7 linked regions of the Homo sapiens genome follow. The protein of the gene in region 5 purifies or fractionates together with the protein of the main gene of each other region. This does not show direct contact. Each region holds a gene or a part of one and is shown on either strand. Other genes may lie near its edges. The genes, in order: RHBDF2, RHOBTB3, RAB11FIP1, MYOF, RELT, ERGIC2 and AXL.

Region 1 (4,565 bases), on a different chromosome or scaffold from region 5:
TGGCCAAGCCCTACTAGGAAAGTAAAATGTCACCTCCAGAGAGAATCAACCACTTTATTGCCTGCTCTCTCCAGCATCTCGCGGATTTACCTACATGTAGGAGTCCCCTACCCAACCCCGGGCAGCCCAGGATCCTGCACCCAGTGAGCCCTCATCAATGGCTAACTGAATGGGAAGCTAGTGAGAGGGTGGGGCTGGCGGTGGTCAGCCTATGTCAGCCCTGGACAGAAGGGGTCTCCCTCATCCTGCAGCTGGTCCAGGAAGCAGCCCTCTTTGGAGGGCTCCACTGAGAGCTCCTGCCCTGCTGGCTCCGTACCCACAGCAGGGCCAGGATGGAGGACGCTGCATGCTGTGCCAGAACGAGTGTCTAGTGGACCTCCCCACTAGACTCCCCACTAGACTCCCCACCTAGCTCCCTAGCCCACCACAGGCACCGCTTTTGGTTCTAGGGTTCTGCCCAGCCAGCCTCCCTGTCCCAAGGCCAGGCCATCCCAGCTGAGACCCCTGCCCAGGATCCGCTGCATGGCTGGCATCTGTGCCAACCTCCTGATGAGAGAGGCTCCCAAAACCCAACACTGAGGGAGAGGAGAGCCTGGTCAGCCCCAGGGCAATCAGTTGGGGGGGGGTCCCGAAGAGAGGTGGCCTGACACCAGACAGCAGAGACAGGGCCAGGGCGGGTGGGCATGTCTTCCTGGGCAGGAGCCTGGCATCGGGAGTGCCATCTGAACCGCAGAGCACAAGAGGCCTGGGCAGCGGCCTGAGAGCAGCTCCACCCTCTGGCCTCAGTTCCCTTCTCTGAGGGAATGGGACAAGGTCACGGCCCAGCTTTGACACCCATGAAGCCTAAACATGGAGTATGGAAGCATGACTTTGCACCAGCCACTTTCCACCATTGAGATCAACTGCCTCCAACTCGTGCAGAAGTTGGGGTGGGGGTGCAAAGGCCCAGCCCCTTCCTTGGGGCTCAGCGGGGAAAGGAGTGGGGACTGTCAGACCCACTCTGGCCTTCCTCATGGCTCAAGTCCAGATGGCAGGAACCAGACAGAAAAAAGCGCTGGAGAGCTGGAGCTACCCCACCCAGCACTTATCTCCGAGCCCTAGAGATGCTTGCTCACTGCAGGGGAAATGGTGACATCCTGGGACCAGGCTTCCTCCTGGCCCGCAGTCACATCCGCCGCTCTCTCTCTAAGACCCCCAGGCCCGCCTCCGCACCCAGCCCACAGGCGGAACACTGCCACCTGCCCAGCCAGATCCTGGCCTCACTGTGGCCAACCCCAGAGAAGGGCCTTCAGCCCCAGCCCAGCTGGGAGATGCCAAAGAGACCTGGGGAGAGGGACTGGGGCTTAGGGTGGGACAGACTCTATTTCCTCCTCCTTTAGGGTGGGGCGGGGGAAATCCTGAAAAAAAGTGAAGTGCAGAGTTCAGATCACCCCCAGGTCCCATGGGTTGAGGCCTCTGTACCCTCCCCTGCCCAGGCTCAGGGCCTCCCCCACTGCAGATAGCTTTGGAGACAGCATAACCCAGCTGGCAGCAGCGGACCTCAGACACATCCAACGAAACACAGACTCAGACACCATTTACCACTGCTGCCCAGAGAATCTGGTTTCCCCACAAAGGGTGAGGCCAGGCACTCCCAACCAAGCCTGTTCCGCACAGCTGGGTAAGCAAGGCCACCCCCAGGGAGGTCCCCAACAGCTCTACCAGCCAGTCCAGGCAGGGTACAAGGGTCCCCCCGCCATGCGGACTGTACAAGCCACACTCCTCCACGCGGGCCCAGCCCACTGCCCCTCCCAACTCCCCCAGGTGCAGTTCCCTCTCTCCACCTGGTGCCACCAATCTCCCTGCACTCCCCACCCCCACACAAGTGGGTTTCTAGAAGCTCTGAGTCTTGCTAATGAAGGGTGCAGTCCCCACAAGCCCTGGGCTCTATGGGCTTTATGGGGCAGGGCAGGGAGAGCGTGACAGGTGCAGCCCAGAGGGAAACAGGCAGAGGCTTGATGCAAGGGCTGAGCCTGCGTGTGGCCAGAAATGGGGACACAGGGGTGGGACGGGACAGGCCCTTGGATAAGAAGTAAGCAGCCCCCTCCCCTCCAGACAGGAAAGAGGGAGACCATTATTATCCACTGGATATGACCAGGAAGTTTAGGGGGCTCAAGCCATCTGAAGACAGGATGTGGGGAAACCACCCCCTGGGCGGGAAGCTGCTTCCAGCCTGGCTCCGGAGCCGCGGGTGGGCGAGGCGTCACCTGGTGTCCCTGGGAGTGGGCAGTCAGGACAGAAGGAGGGCGGTGGGAGGCTTGGGGCCACGTCTTCGCGGCTGAATCACAGGATGCTAGGGTGAGGGCTGGGGACAAGGAAACTGCTTCTCTCCCCAGCTCCCTTGCCACAGAAACTGAAACTCATTTTCCCTGCCTGTGGCCCTGCTGGGAACCAGGGCATTTTTAGAAAGCTGCAAAGAGGAAGCTGAGCCTCACCCACTGTGCAATCCCCAGCAAAACCCGTGGTACTGCTGACCCCGGGGTTTCTCCAGCCCCAGAGGCCCGGAAGGACAGCTCATGGCACAGCTGTTCTTACACCTCCCCATGCATCCCCAAGCTGGGCCTCACGTAGCCAGTGACGCTGCCCTGGCAAGAGGTAGAAGGGGCAAGAGTAAAGGGCAGGAAAGTGGCAAGAAGGCTGGCTGGGGGCCTGGGGGCAGAATTTGGGGAGAGTCATGAGAGGCAAAACAGAAGGGCAGGGTTGGCATGAGCTGCGGCGTGAGCTCCACCGGCAGAGTTAGCAGAGGGGAGAGGGGGCTGGGGACTCTGAGGGTGGGACACCCAGCTGTCTGTCTCCAGGAGCCAAACAGGAGCCACTCTCCCTCCCTCTCAGCACCACCTCCCCAGAGGCCGGAGCTGGTGGCAAGTGGGCGCAGACACGATCTCAACCCACTCCGCCGGTACACGCTTCAGCCCACAGCTGCTGATGGAGAGAAACAAAACGGCCTGTGGGTTCACACAGCTCCCCAGACATCCCACGAACAGCGGGTCCTGGCCCAGAGAGCTGTTTCTTTCTCCTCCTCGCCCCTCCAGGGCTTGCCTCGAACTCAGTTCAGAAGATCAAGAACCCCCAGGGGCAGCTTCAGGGGACTGACCATCCCCTGACTTCTCTGGGCTTTTTCCTATCCGGCCCCAGGCTCTGGGCTCCCCTTAACCCGGTTAGAGTGGCTGGGGCGTCATAAGCCAACCACAGACACGGGAAGCGGGTGCTGTGCTCCAGGGAGCCGCCAAGATCAGGGGTGTGAGGTGTGAACCTGTGTGTGTGTGTTGCGGGGGGCTGGGGGGTGACATGTCATGTTCTTAGGGTGGTGCAGCCCCTGACGCCCCCTCTGCACCAACCATCTGGGCTTTCTCAGGACCAGTTGCCAGCAGGGATGGCAGAGATACAAATGCCCCCTCCTCGGCTGGGGTTCCTGGTCCAGGAAGCAGGCTGAGCTGGGGGTGCTGGAGTCCTGCATCCCCGAAGCCCAATGTGCAGCAGCTGCTGGCAAGACACAGGGGTGGGCACCAAAGGAGGTGGCAGTGCAGCCAGGCCTCGAGCTGGACACAGCGCTGGGCCCCACCCACCACAGTGCCCTCCCCTGGAAATTTCTGGATTTCAAAAGCTGCTGGTGGAGGCTGGGCACAGTGGCTCACACCTGTAATCCCAGCACTTTGGGAGGCTGAGGTGGGCAGATCACCTGAGGTCAGGAGTTCTAGACTAGCCTGGCCAACATGGTGAAACCCCATCTCTACTAAAAATACAAAAATTAGCCAGGCATGGTGGCGGGTGCCTGTAATCCCAGCTACTGAGGAGGCTGAGGCAGAAGAATCGCTTGAACCTGGGAGGCGGAGGTTGAAGTGAGCCGAGATCACGCCACTGCACTCCAGCCTGGGCGACAGAGCAAGACTCCATCTCAAAAAACACACAGACAAAATAAAACAAAGCTGCTGATGGAGGCAGGCAAGTGGCAGCAGCTGGGCGGGGATGCAGGTGCCTTCCACATCCCAGGGAAGAGGCAGCAGCTCCCGAGCCTGGGGCTGGACTGCAGGCTTTGGGGCAATGAAGGGAAGGGGGCACGCACAGCAGCCGGGCCCCAGTTCTCCTGCTCCCTCAGCATCGTTGTGAAGGGGAGGAGTCAGAAGTGGCCCCTGGGGGCCAAAAGGCCCTGTCCATTTGGGGTCAGACACCAGGACACTGGAGGGTTTCCGGGGTGGGGTGTGCACCACACAGTGCCACAGCAACACAGGCTCGGTGGGAACTGCCCTTTGCTGCAAACGTTCATGAAAGTCTGCCTCTCTGCATCCCGGCAGCCGGGTTTTCACGGGTCCTTGGAAGCAGTGGTGGTCCAGCACAAGCCCAGCGGTTGGGGCAGGATGAGATGCAGCCTGGGGTCTGTGTGAGAGGTCCGTTTCACTCCTGCTGGAGGCTCCTTGACACTAAGGTGTGACCAGGCCATTTCCGTTTGTGACTGTCCCATGTACACAGACAGGGCACTGTCCTGTGCTTACAAAGTAGGAGCCCACCCGGTTTCCACCTGCCTCCAG
Region 2 (4,328 bases), on a different chromosome or scaffold from region 5:
ATTTCTCATTATACAAATGGTTATGCTGGGTCTTTAAATGCCCCTTATTTTAATAGAGCAATTAATCAGACATGATTAAATTTCTGTATTAATCCTACGTAATTTTTTTTTTTTAATCTAAGCATTTCTTAACTGAGAGGGGTCTAAATATCACTAAAGCAACAGGACATCTTTAAGGGAAAACAGCTGCAAAACAGCTTTGCATTCTAGAGTGAAAGCCTTAGTTTTAGCCTATGGTATATTTTGTTCCCTTTTAAGACCACAGTGGTAGTTTTTTTCCAAAGAGAACTAATAAACATATTAAGCTATATGGTAATTTTTCTAACACCCACATTGGTTTCGGTCAGAAGAATTTTACTGGAACCTGGAGGTATCCCATTCTTCATAATAATAAAAAAGAAATGTAGTGTATAAAAGCTCCAGGTTACATTACTAAGCAACGACATTTCCGGGAGTGAATATACTTCCTGTATTCCGCAAGCTGCTTCAAGTACATATTCGACGGCCATCTGTGCTTTTCAACAAAACTGCGTTCTTCCACTGAAGTTTTAAGAAAAAGACTGTTAACCGAATATGTTTTATTATGGATCAATTAAGATATCAGCTATTGATTTCCTCTTTAATAGATGAGATCCAGCTCTGTGATACATCTCCTACCATTCCCACAAGTTTTCCCAAATAATTTACTACCATTTTGGTTAAATTAGTATCAGGATTTAAGTTATTATGTGACTTACAATTATATATATCTTGTCCACTACTTCGAGTAGTATTTCATTATTTTCCTTTTCTTTTTTTTTTTTTTTTGAGATGGAGTCTCATTCTGTCGCCCAGGCTGGAGTGCAGTGGCGTGATCTCAGCTCACTGCAACCTCTGCCTCCCCAGTTCAAGCAATTCTCCTGCCTCAGCCTCCCGAGTAGTTGGGACTACAGGCGTGTGACACCACGCCCAGCTAATTTTTTGTATTTTTAGTAGAGACGGGGTTTTACCTTGTTGGCCAGGATGGTCTCGATCTCCTGACCTCGTGATCTGCCTGCCTTGGACTCCCAAAGTGCTAGGATTACAGGCATGAGCCACCACGCCTGGCTTCCTTTTCTTTTCCAATAAAGCTTTTGTTTTTCCTGGATATAACGGACTTATTTTTTTTTTCCATTTATAATACTTAGTTTTCTTTTCTTTTCTTTTCTTTTCTTTTCTTTTTTTTTTTTTTCTGAGACGGAGTCTTGCTCTGTCGCCCAGGCTGGAGCGCAGTGGCGCAATCTGGACTCACTGCAAGCTCTGCCTTCCGGGTTCACGCCATTCTCCTGCCTCAGCCTCCCGAGTAGCTGGGACTACAGGCGCCTGTCACCACGCCCGGATAAGTTTTTTTGGTATAATACTTAGTTTTCTTTGTAGCTAACTTAGTCTTCCAAAGTCCTTCAAGTCCTCTCAGTTGTGCTTCCCACCCAGCCAGTCATCAGATAAGCTGTTCTTCCCTGTTGCTGCTGCCCTGCCTGCTTTCTGGACCTGCTTCCTGCCTTGGAGTTGGATCCCTCCATTCTTGAACTCCAGGTCCTTCGCTTTGTTCATTCTCTAGGTTTGGTGAAGCACAACTGTCAGAGGCATTTGAACTAGAGCAACTGCATCTTGAATAGGGGCTGGGGACAATGAGGCTGAAACCTACTGGGCTGCATTCCCAGACAGTTAGGCATTCTAGGTTACAGAATGAGATAGGAGGTCGACTCAAGATATAGATCATAAAGACCTTGCTGGAGGCCAGGCACGATGGCTCATGTCTGTAATCCCACCACTTTGGGAGGCCGAGGCGGGCGGATTATTTGAGGTCAGGAGTTTGACACCAGCCTGGCCAACATGGCAAAACCCCGTCTCTACTAAAAAAAAAAAAGAAAAGAAAAGAAAAATTAGCTGGGTGTGGCGGCACATGCCTATAATCCCAGCTACTGAGGAGGATGAGGCAGGAGAATTACTTGATTCTCCATCTACTGTTTAACCTCATCTATTATAAGTCAGATTAACAGGGTCTTGATTCAGCCTGCAGGACCATACAAACTAGCTGCTCAGCTCTAAGTTTCAAGAGGAAGCAAAGGTGACATGAGACTACTCCCTCAGTAAATATTAAAAACCAGAGAAAAGTTATTAGAGATGAGCTCTGGCAGCCAGCAAAACAAAACAAACAAAACCCCATAACACAGAACACATAATATCGAGCTAAATTAAACTGCGAGAATAATGAATCCATAAATGCCAAGGGTAACATATTCCTGTGCACCGCTGTTTGTGTTCATGAGTCCAGTATATAAAAATCTAATACTTAATGACCTATTTAACTGGGTTCTGATGTATCTGTGCCTGTACTGACATGACATCTTTTCCAGTCTCACTTTTTGATTTCTAAACACCTCTAAAAATGAAAAATTCTCAGTCAACAGAAAACAAGTTGTAGAATTCCAATAATAATTTGAGAACTTTTCAAGCTGAAGATGGACAGTTCTATAAGGAAGCTGTAGAGTGACCGTGACAAGAAACTTTCCCAACTTCAGGTGACCATGTGCAGTGGGCCAGGTGTAAAGCACTGGAGAGAAGTGACTGCGACCCTCTGGAGAGGGCATGCTCCTTTAGGTGGGCCGTCAGCGCCAAGCCACATGTTGCCACTAGGATGATGGGCCTGGGGTAGCCAGATCTTCCAATTTTTCAAAAGAAGCCAAAATATGGTTATTTTTAAATACCAGTACTATATATTTTTAACTGTGGGGTCCCAATAAAACACGTTGGCAGGCTACACCTAAACCATAGATGGCCAGTTAGTAACTATTGATTTAGACAATTAAATTCTCCCTTATCCAAAAGGCGCTTTTTTCCTCTGCCCAAGAGGATGACACCTCATAGCAGGACCCTGGACAGGAAGAGGCACTGCAGAATGAGAGTTCTCATGATTCCCTTTTAATTCCCATCAAAGGAACAGAAGGCAACATCGACACATCGTTTCCTCCTTAGCCTGCCACCTCACATCGCACTGGAAGTCCTGCTTTGCACCATGCCAGGTGTCATAACATACTTTATAGGTAATTGGGTAATACCATATAATGAAAATTCATAACTAAAAGGATTTATAGACCATCCTTCTCCCAAGGTTGTAATAGTACTCCATATATACCATATATCTATACAAGATAGTAAGTAGAAAATAATCTTATTCTTCTCTTACAAATAAGAGTGACCTCAGGTAACATAATGAAACTGGCTCCAGGACCAAAGTGCAATTCATTTAACTTTTAGCAAGCTTCTTAAATAACTATAGAAGCAGCTACTTAAATAACTATAGAAGAATGTTCCTTCTGACAGCAAGCATACACAAGCCTTATCTTTATGAACTGACTGTTTTTTCCTTGCACAAAGTACATAGCTAATAAATAACTGTTGTTTTGTTTTGATGTGATTATGCTTCTCTACTGTACTAATAGTTGACTTATATAAGGAGGCTCCTAATAGACATATAATGTTTGTTGACTGGCTGAATACATCTCCCAAAAACGGATTGTGTGTTCCTGGGTTTTCTTTAACTGCACAAGTAGCTGAATAAAAACAAGAGATTTTTACTCTTTTTTCTTTTAGAGACAGAAGTCTCGTTATGTTGCTCAGGCTGGACTCAAACTCCTGGGTTCAAGTGATCCTTCAGCCTCAGCCTCCCAAGTTGGCTGGGATTACACCGAGGTGGAATCACCATCTTGACCATATGATTTTTATATCTTTTACCAGCAGAGTCTTTTTTACGAAGTAAAATTTTAGGTAGAACTCAAGATATGAAACAGATAAAGTGGAACTACTATGACTGAAGGAGGGAGGGAAGAGTCCAAGAACTGTAAATTTTAGCCTTCTCTTTCCCTTTCCCTTACTCCCTCTCTCTCTCCTTCTCCTCACCCACTCCCTACTTTCTGTCCCCCACCCTAGAAGACACTTCAGTTATCTCCACGGAGATTTATTTGTCCAGATTGTGAAACTCCTTGATCAGGTAATCTTTCACTTCCTTTTCTTTTTAGCTCAAATTTTCCTTGAGTCTATGCTAGATAATAACATGAGCAAACCACTGCATCTAAACTGTCTATTCTGACAACTATTATATTTTCATTTTTTTCTTTTTATGCAGTACTCAGTAGTTCACACTTTGGTTTTAATTTTTATAATTTACCTTAGAAAGCATATTACATACACTCCCAGTAAGTTTCACAACATTTTTTATATATGAAAAACTGTTATTCCAAAGTAATATAAGGGACTCCCATATAGGTATACTCAGTAAATACAGATATCCAGTACAATAAAGCTAAATA
Region 3 (4,565 bases), on a different chromosome or scaffold from region 5:
TCCACCTCCTGGGTTCACGCCATTCTCCTGCCTCAGCCTCCTGAGTAGCTGGGATTACAAGCACCCGCCACCGCGCCCAGCTAAATTTTTGTATTTTTAGTAGAGATGGGGTTTCACCATGTTAGCCAAGATGGTCTCGATCTCCTGACCTCGTGATCTGCCCGCCTCGGCCTCGCAAAGTGCTGGGATTACAGGCATGAGCCACCGCGCCCGGCTTTACTTTCCGCAACTTATTGAGAGATGTCATGATCCTTATGGACCCCTTCAGGGTTTCTACACAGAAAAGAAAGAGACAAGAAACAGAGGGCCCTCGAACTCTCAGAAATAGGCCAAGATGGCATAATTAAGTCTATGAATCAAGATAGGTTTTCTAAGTGGAGAGCAATACTAAATTTCTTGTAGGTGAAGACTAAAGGAAATACCAAGCATCTTTATTTTAACAATTCTCTAAGAATTAGAAAAATTAACTCATTTTTAAACATTTAAGTCTACCACACCCATCATCATGACTTACCAATTCTTTACAAAGCTCGATCCTATCTCAAAAAGCCACATATGTTAATATTCTACCATCAAATCCAGTATCTCACCTCTTGCTCAAATGTAAATGCCACTGATGCATTTATTTGTTCTGTCAAAGAATATTGTCTTGGGGCAACCATGGGGTCCTCACATACAGAGACTTTAAGAATGGAAAAATAAAATGCAATAGTTTGGTTCACCACCCCTTAACCAGGACAAAAGAAAACAAACTTCAGCATGACTGACATCAGAGAACACTCAGCCCTTCCTCACCACATAAACTCCCATACTTCTTGCCATGAGAGTTTCTGGCAAGGAAGCAGAGTATCTATGATTTATTCCATAAGCAAGGTAAGTCCAAAGGAAGGGAAAATAATTACACCAAAAGCATTTCTTTTTTTTTTTCTTTGAGACAGAGTCACCCGGGCTGGAGTGCAGTGGCGGGATCTTGGCTCACCGCAAGCTCTGCCTCCCAGGTTCAAGTGATTCTTCTGCCTCAGCCACCTGAGTAGCTGGGATAACAGGTGCCCGCCACCATACCTGGCTAATTTTTTGTGTTTTTAGTAGAAACAAGGTTTCACCATGTTGGCCAGGCTGGTCTCGAACTCCTGACCTCAAGTGATCCACCCACCTCGGCCTCCCAAAGTGCTGGGATTACAGGCATGAGCCTGGCCTCACCAAAGCATTTCTAAATCCTGTTTTAATAACAAATGATTAGTAAAAATGAAAAGTTCTATTTTGGTGAACCACATGTCACAGTTCTCTGCATGGGAAAGGAGCAGACTGAAGAAACATCTGGGGCCCCAGTCGACTGCTACTGTATTTCACACAGGATGCCCATTCTTTTATAATAACCAGAGGCCTCTTTAGACCAGGCTTTCTAGAGGCCTTAATTGTTCTACCTAGACGCTAGCCATGTCCTTTTTTAAAAAGTGAAGTGGCAGTCACACCTCTAGAAATATTTTTTGGGGATTTCTTATAAATGCCTTCCCTCTACTCCATTCAAAGGCCAGCATTCAGGAAAAGATACTTAATTACCATTGCCTTTTTTCTCTCCACAGGCACATTCCTAAATGTGTCCCCCAGGAACACCCTGGAGACTAAAGCCCTTGATTTTCCTCTAACAGATTATCAACAATCGTCTCCCTGCAGGAGAGGAATTTCTGTCTCATTAGTGGTGAAAACTGCCTCCTTTGCCACAGGCATCATTAGCCAGCAAGCCGCAGAAAGTAACCTGCTTCTTCAAGAAGAAAAGGGTACTCAGGAGGCTGAGGAAGGAGAATCATTGCTTGAACCTGGGAGGCGGAGGTTGCAGTGAGCTGAGATTGAGGCATTGCACTCCAGCCTGGGCAACAAGAGCAAAATTCTGCCAAAAAAAAAAAAAAAAGAAGAAGAAAAGGGCACTGACCACAAAGCCATACCCCAAACTGGGAAACCAAAAGAAGCAGAGCTTTGATTTCATACTTCGGACATCCCCAGTCTGTAATCTACCAGGCTAAACATAAGATTAAATGCTTCTCCACGTTCACCCAGGCAATCTACTGCCTGCCCTGTGCCTACAGGAACCACAACCACTGCCTCCCTCACAGATGCATTTATTGAGCCCCTACGCTGGGTAACACAGCAAAGGACACAACAGACATGGTCCCTGTCCCAGAGGAAAACAGGGCAAAGTCAGGCTTGGTCTCCTCCTGAGCCAGCTGGGGCATGAGATCTGAACCAGGACATCTTATGGAGAGCAAAACCTCTCTCGTTGCCAATACAAGGGTCTGGGGGTTAATTTTGTTGTAATTCAGAGACCCTTAGGTCTAGAGATCTGTGCCAGACCCAGAACCAAAGGCCACCTAGGGAAGTGCTCTGAGATGAAGATAAGGCCTAAAATGACCTCCCATCACTCTCTCTATTCAAGGCTAGACCTTCTTAATCCTTCTGGAGCTAAGCCAGAGCTAGCTGTCCCTCCTTCAAAAGTATAGGGTAAGAAGCACAATTTTCCAGGGCGTATAGCAATGAAAACCATAGTATCTTAATGGATGTCTAAGATTATTGTTAAGGGATAGGAAGAGTAATGTCAGCAAATACATGTTAGAGTTGATGGCATTTTAATAAGCATGTGGATTGCTTGTAATGTAATTATAACATTTTTTAGTTAATAACTACAATTAAAATGACATATCAGATACTATTTATAAAAACCTTCCTCTGATGGGAGTTACAGAAATACAATAGAAGTCTTTGTAACCAAAGGCAGTTTAAGTAAAATGAGAAAGGCACAAGACTCTTTTCTATGCTTACAGTTCGTAATGCAAAAAACATTTAACTGGTTCACTTACTTGAGAATTTTTTTTTCATTTATGGGTCTAACTTTACTAATGTTATATATTATGTTCTCCTTTTCTTAGTCCTATATCCCTTAAAGCAGTGACTTCATCTGCTGTGTGACAGCACATCAATGAGATCACAGCAGCTCTGCTGTTACAAGACAAAGACTTGGCGGTACTGAGTGGGTAATCACTTGCAGACACATACATACACGCCCTGGTTTCAATGGCATTTCCTAGTAATTCACTTCAACAGAAATCTCCAACAGAAATCTCCACTCACAGGTGTCACAGCCCAAAGCTGTCTTTGTAATGGTGACCTCACCCTGGTATCACAGTGACTGTAAGGGAAAGAAAGCAGCTGCCACTTCCTGGTTCACTTTCAACACCAAGCTCTCCTGATTTTATGTGTTCATTCTTATTACTTTCTTTCCCTCTCACCCTACCATATCCAATCCATCATATGTCAGGTCAGTTGAACCTCCAAGATATTTCTTAAATCCACCACCTCTGTCCACCTCCACAGGTGGCTTGGACATCATTCTAGTCCAAGCCACCACCATCCACCATCTAGATTACTGCAACAGCCTCCCATTTTGTCTGTCCAATTCTAGGTTAGGCCAGCTTCAAATCCATTCTCTACCCAAGAGCCACGGTGATCTCTGACAAATAAATTGGACCGTATCAACCCACTACTTTTATTTATATTTATTTATTTATTTATTTATTTATTTATTTATTTATTTATTTTGAGACGGAGTTTTGCTCTTGTTGCCCAGGCTGGAGTGCAATGGCGCAGTCTCAGCTCACCGCAACCTCTGCTTCCCAGGTTCAAGCAATTCTCCTGCCTCAGCCTCCTGGGATTACAGGCACCCGCCACCATGGCCAGCTAATTTTTGTACTTTTAGTAGAGCCCATGTTGGGCCAGGCTGGTCTCAAACTCCTGACCTCAGGTGATCCACCCACCTTGGCCTCCCAAAGTACTGGGATTATAGGTGTAAGCCACTGTGCCCAGCCCCCACTGCTTTTAATTTTAACACTCAGTGGCTTACCATTCCTCCTAAGTAAAGCCTCGCCTTCCTCTTCAGCCTCATCTTACACAAGCACGCCCCCACTTCCCAGGTATTCCTGCCTCAGGGCCTTTGCACAGGCTGCTACTCCTCCACCAGGCCCCCTTCCTCCACTCCTCACTAGAAAAATTCCTCTTCTTTCTTCAGCTCTCTGCCTCAGAGAGGCTACCTGCAATCTCCTTCTTTAAATCATGTCCTTCCTGCCCTTTTCTTCTATAATATCCTGTCCTCTTTCTCCACAGTACTTACCACAATATATGATTATTTATTTGTGAGTTCTTTTTTCTTTTTTTTTTTTTTTTGAGACAGAATCTCACTCTATAGCCCAGGCTGGAGTGCAGTGGAGCAATCTCGGCTCACTGCAATCTCTGCCTCCTGGGTTCAAGCAATTATCCTGCTTCAGCCTCCCAAGTAGCCAGGATTACAGGTGCACACGACCACACTCAGCTAATTTTTGTATTTTTAGGAGAGACAGGATTTCACCATGTTGGCCAGGCTGGTCTCGAACTCCTGACCTTAGGTGATCCCCCTGCCTCGGCCTCCCAAAGTGCTGAGATTACATGTTCATTCGTTTAATGCCTACTCCCCTACAAGGCTCTGGGCTTCCTGAAAGCAGGGATCATCCCTGTTTTCTTCACCATTGTTTACACTGTAT
Region 4 (4,565 bases), on a different chromosome or scaffold from region 5:
AGAATTTGAAAAGAGAGGAAATAATTGATAATTGTTCATTATGCCATTATACCTTTTCATATAGTTTAACCTGTGAAATCATGTAAATATTTTTGTATATTCAAAAAACAAATAAAATGAAACCAGCAAAGATAGGAGAGGGAACCCTAAAGTGGAATATAACCAGAAATAAAACAGATCTAATTACATTTCAGATGAATAACATAATTACACTAAACTAACCCAAGTAACTTTTGGAACACAGTATTTTGACTATGTACACTTTGTTAAAAGGCAGAAAAAAAAAACCCATAAACATATTGAACTCTAATTAGTAGGCTTATTTTTCACAGTGGTTTATCTACAGATTTTAGGATTGAACCAAGGAGTAAATATATTGAGGATAACAAAGGCCAGATTTCTCACTGTTGGAGAAGAAAGTTAGAGACATAGAAATACAGAGGACTAGGATAAACCTTGTGGTATTGGACTGGAATTGGAAGTATCTTTATGAAGTCATAGCTTTTAATATATTGATAGATATAGAAATAAATAGACATACATGTGTCTGTGCAAATTCGTTTGCTGAGAAGGCCTAGAAGCAATGATATTTCAGTAGTAGTGAGCACTGTATACCCAGATTTTGTTTCTAAAATGCTATTCCCCACTCAAAGGAAAAAGCTGCTTGGAGAAATAGCGATTTACGGACTGGGGCAGAGAAAGTACAAGATAAGCTCAAAACATATGGTTCTATTCCATTGAGCACCTGCCAACAGAGAAGTTGAGGAAGAGCCTACCATGACTGTCAAAAGTCCTAATCAGGGAAAAGGGAAAGCCACCATCCTGTCCAGATTAGGCAGCCTGGTCAGTGGAGAGAGCTGATAAGAAGAACCAGGATGAAAATTGCTGAAGAGCATCTCAAACACAATTAGAACACAGGTGCAACTAATTCTCCACAAATGCCTTTGAGATGTACATTGCCTATCAATTGCAACTTTATTTTCAGGACAGTTATGATTAAGTCAATTTAAACCTATAGTTATCCTCCCAGATTGCCTTTATAACATAAAATGATATTTCAGATTTTGCCGTCGAGTTTTAGATCAAGTATACTCCTGAAACCCCATATGTTTTGGTCCAGCCCTGGTAGAGATTAGATCTTTAAAAAATTAATATTAACATAATGTTGAAATCAAAACACCAATGCCAGATGGATTTTAGCACTACCTGATAGGAGTAACTTAGTATATGTGTATATGTGTGTGTGTATGTGTGTGTGTGTATATATATATATATATATATATGTATATATTTATCTTTTTAGACAGAGTCTCAATTTGTCCAGGCTGGAGTGCAATGGCGCCATCTTGGCTCACTGCAACCTCCGTCTCCCGGGTTCAAGTGATTCTCCTGTCTCAGCCACCCTAGTAGCTGGGATTATAGGCTCACATCACCATGCCCAGGTAATTTCTTTTGTATTTTTAGTAGAGACAGGGTTTCACCATGCTGGCCAGGCTGGTCTCTAACTCCTGATCTCAAATGATCTGCCCACCTTGGTATCCCAAAGTGCTGGGATTACTGGCGTGAGCCACTGCACCTGGCCCAAGTAACTTAGTATTTTTGCTTAATTAGAAATATCACAGACATATCCCCCTTCTCCTCACCAATCTAGTTGACCAATGTCAACTAGACAGATAATCACAGATATCATATGTATGCAGTTTTCACCCAAGGAAATCCCCAACCTCCAAACAAAAGAAGTTCCTCTAGTCTGCAGCAAGAGTGGAATGTGTCAGACACTGGTTCCTCAAAGCTACCTCTTCCTGCAGTGGAGATTTCCACTGCAAAGTTCTCAGAGTTTCATATTGCTATTGGAATGAACCATTCTCTCTACACAAAAATTACGGCAGAAACTATGAGTTCCTGTTCCACCCCACTCCTACCTTTTTAATCCTCCCCTCTTCCAAAGTAAGAAAATTTTTATCTGGGCATATGCCTGCCCAGGCATAAGACTAACATTTTCCACCTTCGTTGGAGTCACATGTGGCTGTATGACTGGATTCTGGCCAGTGGAAAGTGAGTAGAAATTAAGAGTATGACTTCTGCATCCTTCCCTTCAAGAGAAAGGCCTATGTCATCTTCTCCCCACTGTTTACCAGCCCTCCCCTCAGGCTGGAGGGCAGATGTAGTAGTGAGCTGCCTCTACCATGCAGACAATGATAACTCCTGAGTGATGGCAGAGCAACCGGGGGTAAGAGCCTGGGTCTCCAATACCACTGAACCTCCATACTAACTTAGGACCATCTACCTCCACTGTTCCTAGAGACATTGCTCTTACCTTATTGATCACTGTACTAAGCACTTTCTTGTGTTATAGTGGCCTGGCCTCCATCCTAATACCTAATTCACCCTGCTTGGTGAAAAGGAAATGCAGAAAAAGAGAAACTTACCAGCCGTTCTGCCATAGCTAGGAGAGTGTTCACCGCATCCAGGCGATGACTAATATCCTCCCAGTATGAAGTCAGGGTAACAACTGGCTTGGTGTGGGCCCAAGGCAAGTAATAATAGTAGTTGCCTGGTATAAAACATTGGGGGTCAATGAACACTGAACACTTAAAATAGACAGCATGTTTATTAAAGAGATGTGCAGACTGAGCTGCTGATTAATCCACAGGCTTGGGGAATAGCTTGAGGTGGTCTGGTTCTTTAATTTGACTCAATTAAGCAACTGAAGACTAGGAAGCTCTTTTTCATTCAGGCTGTTCTGAAATTTTCTCTGAGACACCCTAGTAAACTGAGCACAGCAATCTCAGGATCGTTTAGTGATTCAGGGCCATGCATCTGAACATCAAAGATGGTTTCTTAACGTGGTAGTAGAAAATACAGATGACATAGGAAGCTAGACTGAACATGTTAGTCCCTAAAAACTGTTATTCTAAATAAATGTTTTTGTTGGAACTGGGGCAAAAGAAAAGAATTTTCTGTTCTTGGAAAGCTTTAGCTGGCTACATAGGGTTTGGTACTAGAGCCTTACTGTGATTAAGAATTATTAGCTGATGTTTCCTAGGATGTCTTACATTTTAAAACTGCTTGTACAAAAATTAAGTTAAAACTCTGGCAATACTGTTGGGAAATTTGATCAGTATTCCTCTCTCCCTTCTCTGTACTCTCAAACCATTTGTTGACAGTTTTATTGGAAGTTCTCATACTTTGCTTTCTATTATGATTTATTTTATACACTAGAATGTAAGCTCCTTAAAATCAGGGACTGTTTCTCACCCATCTTTGTTCAAATACAGCTATTTAATCCTCATGTCAACTCCAGAGAAGACGAAGAAACTGAGGGTTAGAATTCAGTGACACGGTTAAGGTCACAAGCTGGTGAGTAACAGAGTGAAGACCAGAAGCATGATTTCCCAGTAGCTGATCCAGAGTCCCATTCATTTTCCACTACTCAGCCTAAGAAAGATTTGGGGCTTCGTAGGGGTAGGAGCTGCTTTGCGGAGCTCAGAACTTAGCACAGTGGCTACCTTGGGGTCTTACATGGCAAAACCATTGTTAAAGCTGGGTGGGGAGAGGGTAGCATTGGGGTTCAGCCTCTGGCAATGGGACCTGCAACTTCTTGGGTCTGGCCAGTCTTTAAGGTGCCTGAACCCCAACCACACTCTCTTCCTCATTCAACCTTTTCCTTTCCACTAACCATAGGCTGCGTAGAACAGTGCCAGAGGGAAGACACAGTGCTTGCTTCCGGTCCCGTGGTGCACCCATTGTAAACGTGTGGAGAGAACTGTTAGTGCCAATCTTACCATCAAATACAGCACGGCTGTACTGAGTTGTTGATGCCAAAGGCTTACAGGTGGTGTCAAACTTGTTGCCATAGTTCCCAATGCTGACTTCAAACTGAATGGCCTCACCAACATCTTGCAACATGGTGGCTGAATGAAACACGGCAGACAGGCTGTACTTCCGCCTTCGCTGGTATTTCTATAAAGTATGAGCAGACATAAGGTTCAGTGAAAGGCCATTTGTTCTTATTTACATGTGGATTTCTAGGAGACGCAATTCTACACCTAATAATTAGTGCTGAATTAAATGACAGGGGAGAATGTTCTTGGACCCAGCTGTTCCTCTTGCACTCATACAAGTGAGCAAAGATAGAAGCACTAGGATGTTCCTGGCAGCATTGATTGAAATGGAGGGGAAGAAATGAAAACAGTACACAAGTCTTTCAGTAGACCACTTGTTAAACAAGTTATGTTATATCCATAAAATAGAATGAAGGTTCATAAAAAGACTTAATTAGGTCCATATGTGCAACCATGAAAAAAGAGTATATTTTTTGGGCTGGGTACGGTGGCTCATGCCTGTAATCCCATCACTTTGGGAGCCCGAGGTGGTTGGATCACTTGAGGTCAGGAGTTCAAGACCAGCCTGGCCAACATGGTGAAACCCTGTCTCTACTAAAAATACAAAAATTAGCTGGGCGTGGTGGTGCACACCTGTAATCTCAGCTACTCGGGAGGCTGAGGCACGAGAATCTCTTGAACTCAGGAGGTAGAGGTTGCAGTGAGCCGATATCGTGCCAC
Region 5 (4,565 bases):
GCGAGAGGCCAGGGCAGCAGCTAGAAGAACAGTAGGCATTGAAAGAGGCAGAAAGTGCTGGGTGTGGGGTCTCTGGGGTCATCTATCCCCCACCTATTTCCTGAAACCCCAGTGGTAGGGACCACTGACTACCCCACCCGGGCTTCAGGGACACACTCTTCTAACCTCAATCCCTCACACTGAGGAAAACCTGTCCTGTCCCAGACCTGCTGCAAGACCAGTACCTGGGCAAGGAGAGAGCCACATCTGGCTCTGGAAAGTGCTGGAAAGCCCCAGATAAGGCCACATCAGGATCTCAAGCCCTTCCAGCTAACCAGAACGATGAGGAGGAAATGCTTCCGAATCCTCTCTCGTATTCTGCCCCCACTTCCTCCTACTTTGGGTCCATCCCTGGCCCCATCACAGCTGGGCATATCATTAACCAGCCTCATTTATAATCCCTGGAGCCAAGTCTGCAGGTGGCGCTTCCTATTCTGGGCTCTCCCTTCAGCGAAAGTCTCCAGGACCACATCCTCCTCTGCAATCTTCCCTCAAGGCGAGGCTACCCCATTCACACCCACACACCCAAACAGGGAGACGCATCCCAAAAGAAAGCTCCATCTTCTCAGTGTGTGTCCCCAGCCCATTTCACTAGGAGTTCTCTCTGCTTCCCATTCTTAGGAATGAACTGTCTCTCCTGAATCCCTCCTAGAGTCCCCCAATTTGGCCTAGGCTGGATGAGGCTACCATCAGCTGCCCTGGAGATGGAATAGGGATCTCCTCAGACCCCAGAGCGGCTCCCAGCACCTGCTAAGGCTGGAAGGCCTCCTGTACATGGAGCAACCCTTAGCAAGGCCCAAGGCCAAGTCTCACCCTCCCTGAGCTTCTAGCGTCACAGCAGAAAGATGGGCCCCAGGGCAGACCCCAAGATGCTGCAAGTCTGTAATGTGGACTTGCCTGCAGCTCCGGGCAGCTGGCCTGATCCTGTGATCCTGGGACCTGGAATCTGGGATCCCCCAGACCAATACAGATCTTGAACCCCAGCACCTGAGGTGCTATGGCTCTCAGGGTCCAAATCCCAGGCCTCTTTTGCCCAGTTTCCTCTTGGTGCCCAGCATACCCTCTGGGCTGGGCTCCGTTCTCATGCCTGCGTGCCAATGGGCATCTTGCCCTCAGCCATGCCTGCCTTGCCCATAAATGCCAGCAAGCCCTTCATTCTCCATCTCCCTGACAAGCCTGGGTGGGCCCAGAGGTGCTTCCTAGGGTCCAGCTGCCTCAGATTCTTGACGAGCTGAGTAACTGAGCCCTGCCCAGCAGGGGGTTCCCCGGGAGTGTCTGCACCCTCTTGCTGGAGGGCTGCAGGGCTGAGGGTGCGGCTTTTCTCCTTCCCAGGGCCCATCCCCAGCTCACCATAAGGAAGCAGGACAGGGGCCGGCACAGCAGACTTGGCTTCATCCTCAGGCCCCTGGTGGTCGCCGGCCTAGGGCAGATGGAGAGGAGGCTCGGCAGAGCGGCAGGGACAGGCAGGCAGCTGCTGTCCCCTCAGCACCACTTCCAGGATGACAGGACTCATGGGGAGCAGGCAAGGTGCTGCTGGGCAGGCAGAGCCCGGGGAGGCCGGCTCCACACCCGCAAGCACAGGCCCAAGCAGAGGGGGCTGCCCTGCCTGGGAGCCGGCCTCACGGGGCAGCACAGGCAGGAAGGCAGGAAGAAGGCTCTGCAGGCTGGGAGGCTTCCCAGAGGAGGAAGGGCTTCCTTCCCCTTCCTTAAACTGCCAGGTGCCCCGAGGCATCAGCAGGGGAAGGAAGCGCGTGTGGCGGCCTGTGTCCGTGATGACAGGGTTGCAACCAACACCCAACACCCCAGCCCGGCCTCCACACTCCAGCCCAGCGCTCCAGGCTCAGGCTCCCCCCGCCTCCTCCTCACAGGTCTGCAAGCATGCCCGGCCTCTGCCTTCACTCCTGCTGGTTCTGGTCCAAGGAAGGCCTTTTCCTTTACCCTTCAAAGCTCAACACGAAGGCCTCTCTTTCCAGAAGCTTCTCTAGAAGCTTTCCCCAAAGTGGGTCTGGCTCCCACAGCTCCCCACCCCATCTAGGTCCTGGTCCTTCTGCATGGCCACTGTCCACACCTCTTCCAGGGAGGCTGACTCCTCCCTTGAGGCTGGAACATGTCTGGCCACAGCTCTTCCCCTGGCAGACCTATGGGGCTGGGGTGGTCACGGCAGCCAGTGCTCTGTCTTTGTCATCTCTCCAGCACCTACTGCGTGCGGGCACTGGAGAAATCGGTATGAACAAGACAGACAAGGTCCCTGTCTGCAGGGAGCTCCATCCCAGGGGAGACCCAACTGCAAACAGAGAGGTGCCCCTGCCATTTGGTGGTAAGTGCCAAGAAACGAAATAAAGCAGAGTGGGAGTGCAGTGTGTGATACTTCAGAGAAATATCCATGGTGGCGTCACGGCCCACCGGTCTGAGACTGAGGCCCCCAGGCCCAGACGGTGGCCTGCTCTGGAGAAGCCTCCGGCCAGTGGACGAGGCGGACACAGCAGGACAAAGGATTCACATCAGACAGCAGAAGGGACAGGTGGCAGAGCAAGGAAGTCCGCTGTGTACTTCCTGGAGGCCTGGCTTCAGGGGCACGAGGCTGAGGAAAGCCGTGCTCTTCAGGCCACACGCAGCCTCTTAAGCCCAGGGGCAGCCTGGGAACCCAGCCACTGGCTCAGGGCCGCCGCGGCTGAGGCCCCCGCTGTGACTCCAAGGCCGGTGAGGTGAGAAAAGCGCCTCCTGTGGTAGTCCCAAATCACTCAGAGTCCTCTCCCTGCAGGCAGCCCGGCCCTCCCACCTAGAATAGCAGCCCAGGAAACCGATCTGTCCACCCGCCCTCCCTCTTGGCAGATCTCAGAGGGGCCCAGGGTTTGAGTTACACTCAGGGGAGGGAGTGGGCAGCAGTTACATCATCTCAGGACTCTCCAGGTCACTGGCAGCCACTCTGGGTCCCAGGCCAGCTCAGGGGAAAGCCAGGGACAGGAGAAGGTAGGGCCACAGTATAGGGTGGAGGCCACACCTGGCAGTCAACACCCAACAGATGGCACCCCCAGGCTATTTGGGGAGGGTCCCCTGTCACTCCTTAAATTTGGTCACAAGTCTTCCTTCCAGTTTCTGCCCCAAAGTGTCCTGTGCCCTTGTCAGGGCCCAGCTCCCACCTCGAGCCTGTCTCCCCATGGCCCCTCCTCTGTCCTTTGAGGGATCTAACCCACAGACCTGACCACGAGCCCCAAGTCCTCAGGCTTCACTTCCCCACTAGGCCTGACTACGCAAGACAGAGCCTGATGCTGGGGGTGGGGGCAGGCTGTGGCAGGCATGGTGGCTCACGCCTGTAATCCCAGCACTTTGGGAGGCAGAGGCAGGTGGATCACGAGGTCAGGAGTTCAAGACCAGCCTGGCCAAGATGCTGAAACCCCGTCTCTAGTAAAAATACAAAAATTAGCCCAGTGTGGTGGTACAACTTGTAATCCCAGCTACTCGGGAGGCTGAGGCAGGGGAATCGCTTGAACCTGGGAGGTGGAGGTTGCAGTGAGCCGAGATTGTGCCACTGTACTCCAGCCTGGGCGACAGAGCAAGACTCCATCTCAAAAAAAAAAAAAAAAGACAAAGCCAGGGGGAACCGTGACCAACCCAACAGCCCAGCCCCCAGCTCTAGCAGCCCTCCATGTCCCCAAGGTAGGCCCAGAGGGCTGATGCGGGGGTGAAAAGAGGCCAAGCAACCACAGCAGAGAGCCCTAGAACCACCCCAACCCTGGGTGGCACCTGCTAGGTGACCTGAGCCCACAGGGAGCAGCTGTGCAGCTGCTCATCTGCAGACAGACGCAGAGCTGTGTGATCTAGAACCTTCCAGGAAGAAAGCGGGGTCCAAAGGCCCAGACTCAAAGCCAACGAGGGCCCACTCCAGCACACGCATAGACACTGCCACCTAGGGCCTTGCACCTTCTAATTACGCACCTTCTCATTACCCCAAACCAGCACTTACTCCAGTCTGGCTGCCCGGCCCCCACACTCAGCCCAGACTGAGCCCCCACTGGACTTGCCCGGTCAGGTAGAAAGGCCTGGTGCACACACATGTCCACACCTGCTGCTCAGCACCCCTCACACCCTGCCCCACAAGGCCTCCACTGTCTAAAACGGCCCTGGAACCGTGACCAAAAAAACAGTTAGATGGAAGCCCCCTCGGCTGGGAGGGGATATCTGAAGGTCCCATATCCGTCTCTGCCTCATCCTAAAGGCTGGGCAGTCAGTGAGGCCCCAGAGCCTCCGATGCCTGACAGAGGAGAGCCACACCCAGCCACACTGGATGGGGAGGAGGGGCCCCAGGGGGGTAGCAGAGAAGGAACTTGGCTTAGAGGCCACTCCTCCCATGTCTCCTAGCCTGGGGCCCAGTCTCCACTGCCACCAACTCCCTTTGGGACCTTCACATCACTGGGTCTCAGTTTTCTCATCTACAGAGATGGGGACGTTCATCTTGCTGGCATGGCTGTCGCGAAGTTTTTGGGGAATTTCTGTTTTGTTTTTTCTGAGACAGTGTCTCACTCTGC
Region 6 (4,226 bases), on a different chromosome or scaffold from region 5:
GAGTTGAAGAGTCACGGCCTGAGGCAACTAATACTAGAAAAAGTTAAGGCAAATGGGCACACAATTCAGAAAAACACTTCTTGCGATTTTCAACTAACATCATTACTTCCATTTAACACCTCATGTAATTAACTTAGTATCTCAAGGTAGAGACTGGTCTAATAATGCCCAAAGAGCATGTTATCTTACAATAAACATAAACAATTAAAGTAGATCAGCCTAGTTTCCAAAAACATCAATAATTTTCAAAGTTTACAAGAATCACTTGTAAATTTCCACATGGCTACTCTTCTAGAACTGCTATTCTAATAATGTCTGGGAACATAAGCAACTGCCTATAGTAAGAAGTAATGATTCTCATATGCCCACATAAAGGTATGGAAAAATGCTCACTGCCTAGATCGCTTAATTTTTTTTTTTTTTTGTAATTAACTAAGACTAGTAATTGCTGGTTTTCAGATGTAACTGGTTTGAGAGACAGTAGTACCGTGCAAAACGGAGATACTACTGTGGCAAAGGATGCTTGAGTTTAAATAGCCAGAAACACCTTTACCGATACACAAATATTTTAGATGTGTCCCTACTTTATTTGAAATACTGATTCCAACCTGGAACTGCAAAAGGGATAGGAGATGTGATTGATACGGCAATTTGGGTCAAGTAAATGTAAGTACAGTGTAAGAAATCACCAAATTGATTTACATAACTGCTTGAAAACAAAATACAAAGCATTTATTAGTTATGAGCTGTTGTTGAAGGTCTGCTTTAGTATATAGCTTTCACTAATGTATACTTTTCCTCATGCCTTCTCATCCTTAAGTTTCTCCTTATTAAAATAGTATAAAATGAGTTATATTTGGAAAAGTTAACCTAACTCCTTTTGTGAAACACAAAATATTTGGAGTTGCCAAAACTATTTGAATGTTTCACTGCTTGTAATCTTGTTTGTATTCAACTGTTAACATATATATATATATACATATAATTTTGAGTCAACTACTCAATTTTCACTTTTTCATCTTTAATATGAGAAATATAAAATAAACCCTGTATCATATAGCAATTTAGCTCCATCTGGAAGAAAAGCAAATGTAACCATGTGATATCTTAAAATTCCTGTAGCTTTCCTATGAGAAAAAAGTTTAAATATGGGAACTGAGGCTTATTTGGGGGTACATGATTTTAATTTTCTCCTAGTATTAAAAAGACAAAAAAAGTTTCATAATTTGTCATTTATTGAGTCCAAATGTTTATGCTTGCAATACTAAATATTTTGTTTTTTCTCTCAAGACAAAAAAAAAATCCAAGGCAGTCTGTTTTCTCCTCTTAAATGTAAAGTGATTTCATCAGTAATATTTCAGAAAGTAGAAAAAAACTATGCTTTGATTGCATCATCACAATATGGGGGGGATACATGGATCTTGATCCGGGCATTTTACCATAAGGTAGTAAACAACTGGTGACCTCTCTATTTTGATTGTGTTGAAAAAGGGCTACCACCTTGGCTTGCTGAAGGTTTGCTAGAGCTCAAAACAGGAAAAGTACTAGCTTAAAAGGCATGCTGAGATTTTAAAGGTCCTAAAGCTCAGGTTTAAGTAACTTTTAAACAATCAAAAATAGGCATTTTGAATTCAAGTGTAAGCTCTGAATTTTCAAGGAGTTTCATATTAAATTACTTTTTGGTACTTGAATTACTAACTCAGGACATAGATGGAATGCACAGTGTATCTCTCTTACACTATTAAAAAATTAGATCTGTCCAGGGGCAGTGGCTCATGCCTGTAATCCCAACACTTTGGGAGGCCAAGGTGGGCGGATCATGAGGTCAGGAGATTGAGACCATCCTGGCTAACACAGTGAAACCCCGTCTCTACTAAAAATATAAAAAAATTAGCTGGGCTTGGTGGTACGCACCTGTAGTCCCAGCTACTCAACAGGCTGAGGCAGGAGAATCACTTGAACCCGGGAGACGGAGGTTGCAGTGAGCTGAGATTGCACCACTGCACTCCAGCCTAGGCGACAGAGCGAGACTCAGTTTCAAAAAAAAAAAAAAAAAAATTAGAACTTAGTCATTCCTTCATGAATTCCAAAATTAAGATTGTATTAAAGACTGTAAATCTTGTTTGCATTAGTAAATTTTTAATTATAAAAATTCAATGCTATCATAAAACATACATGAGAAAAGTGTGATATTAATCATCTAACTTGAGAACTAGAAGTAATTTGGGTGCCAGGTGCAGTGGCTCGTGCCTATAATTCCAGCAATGCAGGAGACTAAGGTGGGAGGATTACTTGAGTCCGGGAGTTGGAGTCCAGCTTGAACAACACAGCAAGATACTAACTATATAAATGAAAAAGAATTAGCCAGGTTTGTTGGTGCATGGCTGTAGTCCTACCTACTCAGCAGATGGAAGCAGGAGGATTGCTTGAACCCAGGAGTTCGAGGATGCAGTGAGTTACAATCATGCCACTGCACTTCAGCCTGGGCAACAGTGCGAGACCCCATCTCTTAAAAAAAAAAAGAGAAAGGGAATTTTGCAATACTAAGTTAAGCTTTTCCTAAGAGGTAGTCTGAAGTGTACAAATACTGCAGCAGGGAATTATTCACCTAAATATTTAATCTTCTTTATAGGTCAATGTATGCAAACACAGTATTTAAAAATCCATTTCATATAATTTGAGATCTCATTTTTAAATATGTAGTCTGGAATATAAACATATAGATATTATGAATACTCTTGTAAAACAAAAAGGAGAATTGGGTAACAAAGTAGGGTATCCTGGCTGGAGGCACCTCCAGGCATAGGGAAAGTTGCATAACAGGTAGGTGAGTAAAGTGCTCTCTGCAATAGAAAAGAATCACTTGGTGAGGCCAAAAACTCCTAACAAATCCTAATATGCAGGTAAACTTCATCGTCCAAAGGGCTGATCGGAATTTTAATACTTCCATTGCCAAAAATCTGACTCTATTTGAGGAGTTTCAGATGGAAGCCTTTAACTTTTAAAATGGAAATCAAAGGCAAAGCAGAATTTTGCTTTAAAGAAATTCCTTTCATAGGAGATAAATTTCATTAAAATTTTAATATGGTATTTGGAAAATACGAAAACAATTAAAAATCATATATAAGTATCAAAATAATTTTTAAAGTCCTTTTTAAAGGCACTTAACTGTTCTAATCCTAAATGAAAGAAAATAATCCTAAATCAATATTGTTCTCCCTCCCATTTAGAAAAAGCCTTGAAACTCGATTGAATTTTCTTCCAAGCATACTTAAAGGACCAACAATCAGTCTACAATTCTAATCCTTTCCTATTAAAATTCCTGTGGATAGATGGTGTTAGTTTATAGCCAAACTTTGTTGGAAATAATTTGAAGAAAAAAAATTAAAACCTAGAGAAGGCTCATTCACGATTCAGAATTTTCTGTTTAAAAATCTTTCAAAGTATGTTATATCACTTATTTTCATCAGTTAACGTCATGGCTCTTAATGATATATTTTTTAAAGTGATGCTTCTGTTATTTTCTGCAAAACGTCATTCTGCATAAACTTTACTGCAAAACAGACCCATCACTATTTCTCCTTCTCTCCATTATATTGTTTATCCTGTTTTCATAAATTTATCTTTAAAAAAATCCATTTGAAAAACTGTTACTTGTGATATCCTGTTTTCTAAAACCACTATTTTAAATCTAGTTTTTCAGTCTTGTTATTTACCTGGAATTTTGTTTCCCCATTTCCTTAAATGATTTAAACTTTGAGGATTGGCTGCTGATTCTTCTACTGCCATTCAGTACTACAAAAGGAAAACTGATATTGGTACACATATTCCAAATACAGCTTTTAATAGTACCTGTGTGATAGCTCCCTCTCACTGTTTTTAATCTTTTATAATGTGAAGATTTAGAACCAATCCTTAAATAGTAAGAAAGTTAGAACACAATCTAATACAGAATCAATCATATTCAGGACACCCTGAATGCAAATACTTCATAATACAGTTTTATAGTTTAATGGACAATGTTTAACATGGCACCTCTCAAATCTGATATATCTTGTGGTGCTTACAATTTGCCTTACACTTTCATTTAAAGTTACCCTGTTCTCCACTCACCACATGTATAAAATATCCTATTTTTTCTCTTAATGTTTTACAAACCGGTAATTTTCACTATCAGTAGCGGATCTTTTTATAACTCACCCTATGTTGCCCAAAATACACCAATA
Region 7 (3,587 bases), on a different chromosome or scaffold from region 5:
TCCCTTTGCAGGGGCTTGTCCACATGGGCTGGGCATGTCTTGGGGTATGGTGGGCATCTCTGAATAGTGGTGTGTACATGCCCAGGATAAATACAGGCCCACGTGTGCATGGTAGCAATGTAGACAGTTTAGGTTAGAAGAAGCTGCAGTGATTATGCGTGCATGTGCGCACACTCATAGAATGTGGACAGCCAGGGTGTGCAGAGTGGCACATGAGCTCATGTGTCCATGAAGTGTGTATATGTGTGTGATGGTGAGCATGTGTATGCATCCACAAAAGTTACTTATTCATGTGTATACCCGTGTCAAGTATTTTTTATATATATATATTTTTCTTTTTTTGAGATGGAGTCTCGCACTGTCACCCAGGCTGCAGTGCAATGGCATGATCTCAGCTCACTGCAGACTCTGCCTCCCGGGTTCAAGCAATTCTCCTGCCTCAGTCTCCCGAGTAGCTGGGATTACAGGCGCCCACCACCATGCCTAGCTAATTTTTGTATTTTTAGTAGAGACGGGGTTTCACTATATTGGCCAGGCTGGTCTCAAACTCCTGACCTCAGGCAGTCCGCCCACCTCAGCCTCCCAAAGTGCTGGGATTACAGGCATCAGCCACCGCACCCGGCTAAAGTATTATGTTTCTATGAATACTTGTGATGCTCCCAGAGGATGGTTGTGAACATGTGTACATAAGTGTGGGTGTACCCATGAACCTGGGTATTGGTGCGGGTGATTCTGTGCAGGAGAGACTGTCTAATTCCCTCTGCCCCTCACAGTGGTCCTTCGGGGTGACAATGTGGGAGATTGCCACAAGAGGCCAAACCCCATATCCGGGCGTGGAGAACAGCGAGATTTATGACTATCTGCGCCAGGGAAATCGCCTGAAGCAGCCTGCGGACTGTCTGGATGGACTGTGAGGACCCTTAGGTCTCCCCCAACCCAGAATTCATTCCAAACCCCTGACTACCCCCAGATGGCCCTCACAGGTCCAGGACTCTCTATAACCCAGACAGAATCCCTGAGAATGCTGAGTGACCCACTTGCCCCTCACCAATGCTCTGAGTAGGGCCATCACTAACCAGTGGGGTGCAAATCAGCTAAAGGCACCCTTTCCTCCTTTGTCTGTGTGGGCTGAATCAGCCCCCTGGCTCCCCACCCCCAAGCCAGGTATCCTTGGGTAGTGAATAACAGCACAGTCTTACCTGGCGGCCCTGCCTTTGGGACATGCACTCCCAGAGACTTCTCATTCCAGACTCCTGAGCACACCATGCTTCCCCGACATGCTCCTCAACACCTGAGACTCTCTGCAAAACCCTTCAGTTTGTTTTATTGGCCTTCTCCAGACTCAGGTCTCCTCTGAGATATTTGCAGGATCCTTCAGGGAATGCTTACCAAACTTTGCAATATTGGAGTATGCGGAGAAGGCCGTGACATTTAGCTAGCACTTTGAGGGTAAAGAGAGGATGACTTTGGGTCAGGAGGAGACAGCCTGGGGCGTCAGACTCCTCAGTCCACCTTGGGTACTCCAAGAGCTGAGACGAGTAAAAATAACAGCTAACATTTTCATATAACTGACTAGAAGGCACTGTTTTAGGTGCCTGGCATGTGTCAAATCATTTGGTCCTTACCACAGCCATGTGATGTAGATAGGTATCATTATGATTCCCATTCTGCAGATAAGAAAACCCAGTCCTACAGGGAGGGTAATTTATTTTTATTTATTGACTTGAGTCTCGCTCTGTCGCCCAGGCTGGAGCACAATGGCTCCATCTCGGCTCACTGCAACCTCCCAGGTTCTAGCGATTCTCTTGCCTCAGCCTCCCAAGTAGCTGGGACTACAGGCGTGTGCCACCATGCCCAGCTAATTTTTTTTGTATTTTTAGTAGAGATGGGGTTTCACCACCTTAGCCAGGATGGTCTTGATATCGTGACCTCATGATCCACCCGTCCCAGCCTCCCAAAGTGCTGGGATTATAGGCATGAGCCTCCACGCCCAGTCTGGGAGGGTGATTTATTTGCCAAAGATTGCACAGCTGGTGTGTTTGTTATCTATATCCCCAAATCAAGTAGTTTAAAACAACAAACGTTTATTATCTCACACAATTTCTGAAAGTTGGATACTGGGAACAGCTTAGCAGGGTGATTTTGGTTCAGGATCTCTAATGAAGTTACAAAGATATCACTGGGGGCTGCAGTCATCTGAAGGTTGGGACTGGAGGATTGCTTTCAAGGTGGCTTACTCACATGGCTGTAGCAGGAGGCTTCAGTTCGTTGCCATGTGGACCCCTTTGTGGCACTGCTTGAGCTTACTCACAACATGGCAACCCAGGAGAAAGTGCGAGGAAGCCACATGCCTTTTATGACCTAGTCTCAGAAGTCACACACACCATCACTTCTGCCAAATCAGAAGCAAGTCACTAAGTCCTGCCCATGCTCAAGAGGAGAGGATTTATTCTCCGTCTTTTGCAGGGAGGAGGGTCAAAGAATTTATGGACCTATTTTAAACCAGCACAGCTTGTAAGTGGCATAGCCAGGCTTTGATGCAAGTCTGTTCTGGGGAGCTGGAAGGTCTGTTCTAGCAAACCCTCATCAGAATACTACTCCATATACAGACAGGTTTCCCGAGACCCTTCCCAGCTCCTGAGTCTCCCAGGACCCAACTCAGAAATTCTTGGGAATTCCCAAATCCCCATAGATGGCCTCAAACTGCTGAGGCTCCCTATAACCCTCTAAAATGCCCCCAGTCCCCTGAGTGTCCTAAAATGTCCCCAGGCTTCCAGAATGCACCCCTTCTGAGTCCCTGCTCAATCTCCCACCCCTCATTTTGCTGCCCTAGGTATGCCTTGATGTCGCGGTGCTGGGAGCTAAATCCCCAGGACCGGCCAAGTTTTACAGAGCTGCGGGAAGATTTGGAGAACACACTGAAGGCCTTGCCTCCTGCCCAGGAGCCTGACGAAATCCTCTATGTCAACATGGATGAGGGTGGAGGTTATCCTGAACCCCCTGGAGCTGCAGGAGGAGCTGACCCCCCAACCCAGCCAGACCCTAAGGATTCCTGTAGCTGCCTCACTGCGGCTGAGGTCCATCCTGCTGGACGCTATGTCCTCTGCCCTTCCACAACCCCTAGCCCCGCTCAGCCTGCTGATAGGGGCTCCCCAGCAGCCCCAGGGCAGGAGGATGGTGCCTGAGACAACCCTCCACCTGGTACTCCCTCTCAGGATCCAAGCTAAGCACTGCCACTGGGGAAAACTCCACCTTCCCACTTTCCCACCCCACGCCTTATCCCCACTTGCAGCCCTGTCTTCCTACCTATCCCACCTCCATCCCAGACAGGTCCCTCCCCTTCTCTGTGCAGTAGCATCACCTTGAAAGCAGTAGCATCACCATCTGTAAAAGGAAGGGGTTGGATTGCAATATCTGAAGCCCTCCCAGGTGTTAACATTCCAAGACTCTAGAGTCCAAGGTTTAAAGAGTCTAGATTCAAAGGTTCTAGGTTTCAAAGATGCTGTGAGTCTTTGGTTCTAAGGACCTGAAATTCCAAAGTCTCTAATTCTATTAAAGTGCTAAGGTTCTAAGGCCTACTTTTTTTT

The links.
Region 1: the proteins of RELT (region 5) and RHBDF2 purify together in Homo sapiens (affinity purification with mass spectrometry; one large-scale study listed by BioGRID and IntAct). This does not show direct contact.
Region 2: the proteins of RELT (region 5) and RHOBTB3 purify together in Homo sapiens (affinity purification with mass spectrometry; one large-scale study listed by BioGRID and IntAct). This does not show direct contact.
Region 3: the proteins of RELT (region 5) and RAB11FIP1 purify together in Homo sapiens (affinity purification with mass spectrometry; 3 studies listed by BioGRID and IntAct, with this or other methods). This does not show direct contact.
Region 4: the proteins of RELT (region 5) and MYOF purify together in Homo sapiens (affinity purification with mass spectrometry; one large-scale study listed by BioGRID and IntAct). This does not show direct contact.
Region 6: the proteins of RELT (region 5) and ERGIC2 purify together in Homo sapiens (affinity purification with mass spectrometry; one large-scale study listed by BioGRID and IntAct). This does not show direct contact.
Region 7: the proteins of RELT (region 5) and AXL purify together in Homo sapiens (affinity purification with mass spectrometry; one large-scale study listed by BioGRID and IntAct). This does not show direct contact.

What each region holds. Positions count from the first base shown.
Region 1 is NC_000017.11:76,490,816-76,495,380, forward strand, and holds part of RHBDF2 (inactive rhomboid protein 2), read right to left. Parts: intron 2,340-4,565; exon of another isoform or gene 2,247-2,339; intron 1-2,246. UniProt on the Homo sapiens protein: Regulates ADAM17 protease, a sheddase of the epidermal growth factor (EGF) receptor ligands and TNF, thereby plays a role in sleep, cell survival, proliferation, migration and inflammation. Does not exhibit any protease activity on its own.
Region 2 is NC_000005.10:95,789,271-95,793,598, reverse strand, and holds part of RHOBTB3 (rho-related BTB domain-containing protein 3), read right to left. Parts: intron 541-4,328; coding exon 425-540; 3' UTR 1-424. UniProt on the Homo sapiens protein: Rab9-regulated ATPase required for endosome to Golgi transport. Involved in transport vesicle docking at the Golgi complex, possibly by participating in release M6PRBP1/TIP47 from vesicles to permit their efficient docking and fusion at the Golgi.
Region 3 is NC_000008.11:37,888,881-37,893,445, forward strand, and holds part of RAB11FIP1 (rab11 family-interacting protein 1), read right to left. Parts: intron 1-4,565. UniProt on the Homo sapiens protein: A Rab11 effector protein involved in the endosomal recycling process. Also involved in controlling membrane trafficking along the phagocytic pathway and in phagocytosis. Interaction with RAB14 may function in the process of neurite formation.
Region 4 is NC_000010.11:93,377,434-93,381,998, forward strand, and holds part of MYOF (myoferlin), read right to left. Parts: intron 3,964-4,565; coding exon 3,786-3,963; intron 2,555-3,785; coding exon 2,430-2,554; intron 1-2,429. UniProt on the Homo sapiens protein: Calcium/phospholipid-binding protein that plays a role in the plasmalemma repair mechanism of endothelial cells that permits rapid resealing of membranes disrupted by mechanical stress. Involved in endocytic recycling.
Region 5 is NC_000011.10:73,386,006-73,390,570, reverse strand, and holds part of RELT (tumor necrosis factor receptor superfamily member 19L isoform 1 precursor), read right to left. Parts: intron 1,460-4,565; 5' UTR 1,435-1,459; coding exon 1,390-1,434; intron 1,382-1,389; exon of another isoform or gene 21-1,381; coding exon 1-20. UniProt on the Homo sapiens protein: May play a role in apoptosis. Induces activation of MAPK14/p38 and MAPK8/JNK MAPK cascades, when overexpressed. Involved in dental enamel formation.
Region 6 is NC_000012.12:29,336,135-29,340,360, forward strand, and holds the end of ERGIC2 (endoplasmic reticulum-Golgi intermediate compartment protein 2), read right to left. Parts: 3' UTR 1,218-4,226; downstream 1-1,217. UniProt on the Homo sapiens protein: Possible role in transport between endoplasmic reticulum and Golgi.
Region 7 is NC_000019.10:41,256,720-41,260,306, forward strand, and holds part of AXL (tyrosine-protein kinase receptor UFO isoform 1 precursor), read left to right. Parts: intron 1-773; coding exon 774-910; intron 911-2,833; coding exon 2,834-3,185; 3' UTR 3,186-3,587. UniProt on the Homo sapiens protein: Receptor tyrosine kinase that transduces signals from the extracellular matrix into the cytoplasm by binding growth factor GAS6 and which is thus regulating many physiological processes including cell survival, cell proliferation, migration and differentiation.